2 linked regions of the Homo sapiens genome follow. The protein of the gene in region 1 purifies or fractionates together with the protein of each later gene. This does not show direct contact. Each region holds a gene or a part of one and is shown on either strand. Other genes may lie near its edges.

Region 1 (2,933 bases):
TACTCAATGTTGTATAAATCACAAATAAAATCTTTGTTTCAGATATTCAAAAATAACCTTCTATAAGTTGTTCTTGTGAATATAGATGATTTTTATATAGAAAAATAGAAGGTACATTTCATTAATATCAGTGTTAACAGTTTTTGTTGTTGTTGTAAGTAACAGAACACAGCTCTGGTTATGCTAAGCAAAACCGGAACATTCTGAAAGGATGTTAGGGCTCCTAAATCAATGTGCGGTTAAAAGACCAGGCTCAGAGAACAGATAGCAGCCTAGGCAGGTGTGGAGGCTGAGCAGATCAAACCACACAGAATCAGTGTTTCTTTGCAACATCAGCCTGATCTTCAAACTTCACTGTAATCAATTAGATGAAAAAATATTTTGCAACCTTGAGTCATGAACTTACTTAAGACAAGCAGGGACTAACATCTGACCCCTGCCTACTCCTTTATGGTTTTTTTTTTTTTTTTTTTTTTTTTTTTTTTTTTTTGAGACAGCATCTGGCTCTGTCGTCCAGGCTGGAGTGCAGTGGCACCGTCTTGGCTCACTGCAAGCTCCGCCTCCCGGGTTCACGCCATTCTCCTGCCTCAGCCTCCTGAGTAGCTGGGACTACAGGCGCCTGCCACCACACCTGCCCTGACTACTCCTTTCTAAACAGAGAATCTGGTCTCTCAGTGGAAACTAGAAGTGGAAGATCAAGAGGAGAGAATTTCCATGAGTCTTAACTCCACATAATGGAAAATTTCCTCCAAAAAATTCAAAGAGAGTGTTACTGGCTAGAGAATTTAATAGCTGTGCAACCCTCAAAAGGCAAATATGCAGACACTTTTCAAAATAAGGGGAAAAAAATCATGCCCTGCCTGGAGAATCCCTATTGCACTGAGCCTGGAGGAATAAGAAAGCAACAAATGAGCCCAACCTGTTTGCTCAGGCTTCTCCAGGAAGGGATCGGATTGGTGAAAACTATTCACAAAGAACAAGATCCTCGGGCAAATATTGCTTTTTGATACTTGTCCTTTTCTCTCTTTACGCGCATTCTCTGCCCAGTATTATAATCGGGAAAAAAGAAATTGCTTAGTTCTGAATGTTATGTTTTGGGGCAAGTCCACCTATAAAGTACATTTCTCAAATAAAAGGAGAGGCAGAATAAGGGGAGGAGAAACGAGAGAAGAAGAATAGAAAAACAGAAGCTGAATTTGAAGGGAGTGAAAAGAAAGAAAATGGAAAGAAAACAAGAAAAATAAAGGGCAGTATCATAAAAGGTAGAGAGCTGCTTTGAATATCCCTAATTTAGTTTACCTGAAACAAAGTTCAGTAGAAATAGAATGAGGAAAACTGCCAAAAAGAGGGGACGTTTTTGGTAAAAGATCATTACTGTAATAGTAATAATCATGTTGCTATTGTATTGTAATCCAATATATATGTAAAGTTCCTTTCTTCCACCGAAGGAAATTATGAGAAGAAACTGCACGTTGGTGACTGAGTTCATTCTCCTGGGACTGACCAGTCGCCGGGAATTACAAATTCTCCTCTTCACGCTGTTTCTGGCCATTTACATGGTCACGGTGGCAGGGAACCTTGGCATGATTGTCCTCATCCAGGCCAACGCCTGGCTCCACATGCCCATGTACTTTTTCCTGAGCCACTTATCCTTCGTGGATCTGTGCTTCTCTTCCAATGTGACTCCAAAGATGCTGGAGATTTTCCTTTCAGAGAAGAAAAGCATTTCCTATCCTGCCTGTCTTGTGCAGTGTTACCTTTTTATCGCCTTGGTCCATGTTGAGATCTACATCCTGGCTGTGATGGCCTTTGACCGGTACATGGCCATCTGCAACCCTCTGCTTTATGGCAGCAGAATGTCCAAGAGTGTGTGCTCCTTCCTCATCACGGTGCCTTATGTGTATGGAGCGCTCACTGGCCTGATGGAGACCATGTGGACCTACAACCTAGCCTTCTGTGGCCCCAATGAAATTAATCACTTCTACTGTGCGGACCCACCACTGATTAAGCTGGCTTGTTCTGACACCTACAACAAGGAGTTGTCAATGTTTATTGTGGCTGGCTGGAACCTTTCTTTTTCTCTCTTCATCATATGTATTTCCTACCTTTACATTTTCCCTGCTATTTTAAAGATTCGCTCTACAGAGGGCAGGCAAAAAGCTTTTTCTACCTGTGGCTCCCATCTGACAGCTGTCACTATATTCTATGCAACCCTTTTCTTCATGTATCTCAGACCCCCCTCAAAGGAATCTGTTGAACAGGGTAAAATGGTAGCTGTATTTTATACCACAGTAATCCCTATGCTGAACCTTATAATTTATAGCCTTAGAAATAAAAATGTAAAAGAAGCATTAATCAAAGAGCTGTCAATGAAGATATACTTTTCTTAAAAATCAGTATTCTTTTGGTTTCTAAAGCCCTTCCTAGACTTTTTTCTTTAGCTGAGAAATATAGTGCATCAATGGAGAACATTGCAGTTTTCAAAACTTTATTTATTTTTATTTTATTATTATATTTTGAGATGGAGTTTCTCTCTGTCTTAGGCTGGAGTGCAGTGGTGTGATCTCGGCTCACTGCAACCTTTGCCTCCCGGGTTCAAGCAATTCTCCTGCCTCAGCCTCCCGAGTAGCTGGGAACACAAGCGCACACCACCATGCCCGACTCATTTTTTGTATTTTAGTAGAGACAGGGTTTCACCATGCTGGCCAGGCTCGGCCTCCCAAAGTGCTGGGATTACACGCATGAAACACCGCGCCCAGTCTAAAAACTTTATTTTCTAAAATTCAAATACGTACAATTTTGTTCACAAAAGCTTTTATGTTTTAAGTTGTCATTCATCTTGTTCAGCAGTTATTTTAAGTTCTTTGTCTTCCGTGCACAGAATGGCTTTGTACCTCCATGCCCTTAGGTTTAGGTAAGATCATGTGGCTATT
Region 2 (3,821 bases), on another chromosome or scaffold:
AAAATCCAACAATTTATAGTCTGAGAAAACAAACAGAGCCATGATGGACACTTTGCAATTTGTGTTGTTGATTTTATGGATAAAAGACAGTTTTATTTCATGTCTCCAACAGATAACAATTTGATTTTCTCAGATTTCTGGATTTTGTGACATGGGTGCTAAGTAGGAATCATGAGAGGAGAGGCATGGTCAGCATTAGCCCAGAAGTCACAGATCCCCTGGAACCCTCTCCAACAATTCCCTGCACATGAAGATATGATTTGTGTGTGATTTGTTTAAGAATATATGCAAGATATTGCCAGCCAATAAAATCATTTAGATTTTTTTAATGATCAAAGTAATATAATCATGCTGCAAAACGAGTTAAAATGTGGGGAAAAGAAAATAACCACTCATGATTACGTCATCTCCACATGACTGCTGTTGGCATTTTGATGTTATGTTACCTACCAGAGGCTTTTTTTCTATGTATCTTTTTTCCTTTCACAGTTATAATTAGAATATATTTATCATTTTGTGCCCAATTTTGGAAAAATATGTTTTTCACATTGCCATCTCATTCTCTGAATCATTTTTATTTTATTTATTTATTTTTTGAGACAGAGTCTTGCTCTGTCACCCAGGCTGGAGTGCAGTGGTGAGATCTCGGCTCAATGCAACCTCTGCCTCCCAGGTTCAAGTGATTCTCCTGCCTCAGTCTCTCAAGTAGCTGGAATTCCAGGCATGCACCACCATGCCCGGCTAATTTTGTGTTTTCAGTAGAAACAGGGTTTCACCATATTGGTCAGGCTGGTCTCAAACTCCTGACCTCAAGTGACCCACCCACCTCGGCCTCCTAAAGCGTTGGGAATCCAGGCATGAGCCACCACACCTGGCCTCTGAATCATTTTTGAAAGCTGCATGATGTTTCATCCAGGCAAGGGTGCAGAGCATGTGCTGTGGCTGTGAAGTTCCAGTGTGGCTTCCAGGGCTTGCCCAGGGTTGTCAGCCCCTTCCCCACCACTCCTCACTCTGAGGATTATCTGTAGGGACTCTTTAACCCTGGGTTGACTTTGGGTTTCCAGCAAACCCAATCCATTGTTATGGCGGCTTCATCCACTGTGTCCTTTCCTGCCTATACCCTCTCTCTACCTCCACTCCCACCTCAGCCTTCTCCAAGAAAAACAATATACGCATCATTTAGTCTTTTGGATTATCCGTCTTTTATTTCATTCCTCTGTGAATGAGAGAATCTTTGGGACTGGTTTTCTACGGTATCAGCTCCTCAGGCTCTGTCTTGGGATTAGGTAAGGCAAGGAAGAAGAGAGGAGAGACAATCACACACGACAGCAAGGCGTGCTGTATACCCCTTGGCAGTTGCTTGGGAAGAGGGAATCTGGAGAAGTGTCTTAGTTTCCTATTGTTTCTAGAACACATTGCCACACGCACTGTGGCCTAAAACGCAATTTTTATACTTTTTTTTTTTTTTTTTTTGAGACTGAGTCTCCCTCTGTCGCCCAGGCGGAGTGCAGTGGTGCAATCTTGGCTCACTGCAACCTCCGCCTCTTGGGCTCAAGCAATTCTCCTGCTTCAGCCTCCTGAGTAGCTGGGATTATAGACACGCTCCACCATGCCCAGCTAATTTTTGTATTTTTAGTAGAGACGGGGTTTCGCCATGTTGCCCAGGCTGGTCTCGAACTCCTGGGCTCAAGTGGTCCACCCACCTCAGCCTCCCAAAGTGCTGGAATTACAGGCGGGAGCCACCACGCCTGGCCCGGTTTTAAAAATCTTATAGTTCTGGAGGTCAAGAGTCCTAAAATGAGTCTCACTCGGCTAAAGTCAAGGTGTTAGCAGGGCTGGTTTCTTTGGGAGGCTCTAAGGGAGAATCATTTTGTTGCCTTTTTCAGCTTCTAGAGGCCACCTACATGCTTTGGCTGGTGACCTTGAACCACTCTGACCTCACTTCCATTCCATTGTTACATCTCCTAGTACTAACTCTGATCTTCCTGCCTCCCTCTTATAAAGATCCTGGTGATTATATTGGGCCCACACAGAAATCTAGGCTTACCCCCTCATCTCAAAATCCTTAACTTAATCGTGTCTGCAAAATCCCTTTTGCCATGTAAGGTCCCACGTTCACAGGTTCCAGAGATTAGGCCATGGATTTTTTTTTTTTTTTTTATACAGAGTCTCGCTGTGTCGCCCAGGCTGGAGTGCAGTGGTGCGATCTCGGCTCACTGCAAGCTCTGCCCCCGGGTTCATGCCATTCTCCTGCCTCAGCCTCCTGAGCAGCTGGGACTACAGGTGCCCGCCACCACGCCTGGCTCATTTTTTGTATTTTCAGTAGAGACAGGGTTTTACCGTGTTAGCCAGGATGGTCTTGATCTCCTAACCTCGTGGTCCGCCCGCCTCAGCCTCCCAAAGTGCTGGGATTACAGGCATGAGCCACTGTGCCTGGCCAGGCCATGGACATCTTTGGAGGCCATTATTCAACCAACCCCAAGAATTCAGAAATGCACCATCTTTGGTTCCAATACCGATTGGCCTGGCACCCAGGACCCTCCCACATTGCCATCTTTTCATCTCCTCAGGACAAGAAGGACTTTATAGACATGCGGGTGAAGCGGCTTCTGAAGGCGGGTGTCATCTCTGCCCTGGCTTGCATGGTGAAAGCAGATAGTGCCATCCTCACTGACCAGACCAAGGAGCTGCTGGCCAGGTGGGGCTGCAGTGGGCCAAGGCTTGGAACTAGGGCTGGGGGCCGAGGGTCCTGGAGTGCAGCACACTGGGCAGGGAGATAGAAATGGTGGGGGCCTAAATGAGGAGATAAACTATTGGGAAAGCCTGGAGAAAGGTCTGAGGGGATCAGCTTTGAAAAGTGACATGGGACCAGGGGTGGTGGCTCATGCCTGTAATCCCAGGGCTTTGGGAGGCCCAGGTGGGAGGATTGCTTGAGCCCAGGAATTCAAGACTAGCTTGGGAAACATATTGAGACCCCATCTGTACAAAAAAATTTTAAATTAGCCTGGCACGGTGGTGTGCACCTGTACTGCCAGCTACTTGGGAGGCTGAGGCAGGAGGATCACTTAAGCCCAGGAATTCAGGGCTGCAGTGAATGATGATGGTGCTACTGCACTCCAGCCTGGGTAACAGAGCAAGATCCTGTCTCTATACAAAAGAGAAATAAAGAAAGAGAGAAAGAGAGAGAGAGAGAGAAAGGAAGGGATGGCGGAAGGAAAAAAGGAAGGAGGGAAGGGAAAAGAAGAAGGGAGGAAGGAGAAAGAAAGAAAAAGAAAGAAAGAAAAAGAAAGAGAAAGAAAGAGGAAGAAAGGAGGGAGGGAAGGAAGGAGGGAAGAAAGAAAGGAGGGAAGGAAGGAGAGAGAGGAAAGAAGGAAAGAAAGAAAGGAAAGAAGAAAGAAAGAAAGAAAGAAAGAAAGAGAAAGAAAGAAAAAAGAAAAGAAAGAAAGGGAAAGGAAAGGAAGGAAGGAAGGAGAAGGAAAGAAAGAGGGAAAGAAGGAAAGGAAGGAAGAGAAGTGGTATGTTGGGCAGGTCATCACAGGTGGAAGTTTGTATCAGGAGAAAGGAGGCCACTGTTCCTTCTTGTTACCTTGTTCTCAGAGATTAAAGGCACAGTCTGTGTGCAGCCTGGCCAGGGAGGCAGGCAAGATCACAGCTACAGTCCGATGCAATGGATGCCATGATGTGGGAAGCATAAAGGGCTGATTGGAGCACAAGCAGTGTTCCCCAACCAGCCAGACTGGAGGGGAGGTGGGTGGGCAGCTGGTAAGGCCTCCTGGGGGATGTGACAACTCAAGCTCTGAAGGAAGCAAAGGAGCCACCTA

The links.
Region 2: the proteins of OR5M8 (region 1) and UNC45B purify together in Homo sapiens (affinity purification with mass spectrometry; one large-scale study listed by BioGRID and IntAct). This does not show direct contact.

The regions. Positions count from the first base shown.
Region 1 is NC_000011.10:56,489,892-56,492,824, reverse strand, and holds OR5M8 (olfactory receptor 5M8), read left to right. Parts: upstream 1-1,454; coding exon 1,455-2,390; downstream 2,391-2,933. UniProt on the Homo sapiens protein: Odorant receptor.
Region 2 is NC_000017.11:35,171,672-35,175,492, forward strand, and holds part of UNC45B (protein unc-45 homolog B), read left to right. Parts: intron 1-2,570; coding exon 2,571-2,698; intron 2,699-3,821. UniProt on the Homo sapiens protein: Acts as a co-chaperone for HSP90 and is required for proper folding of the myosin motor domain. Plays a role in sarcomere formation during muscle cell development. Is necessary for normal early lens development.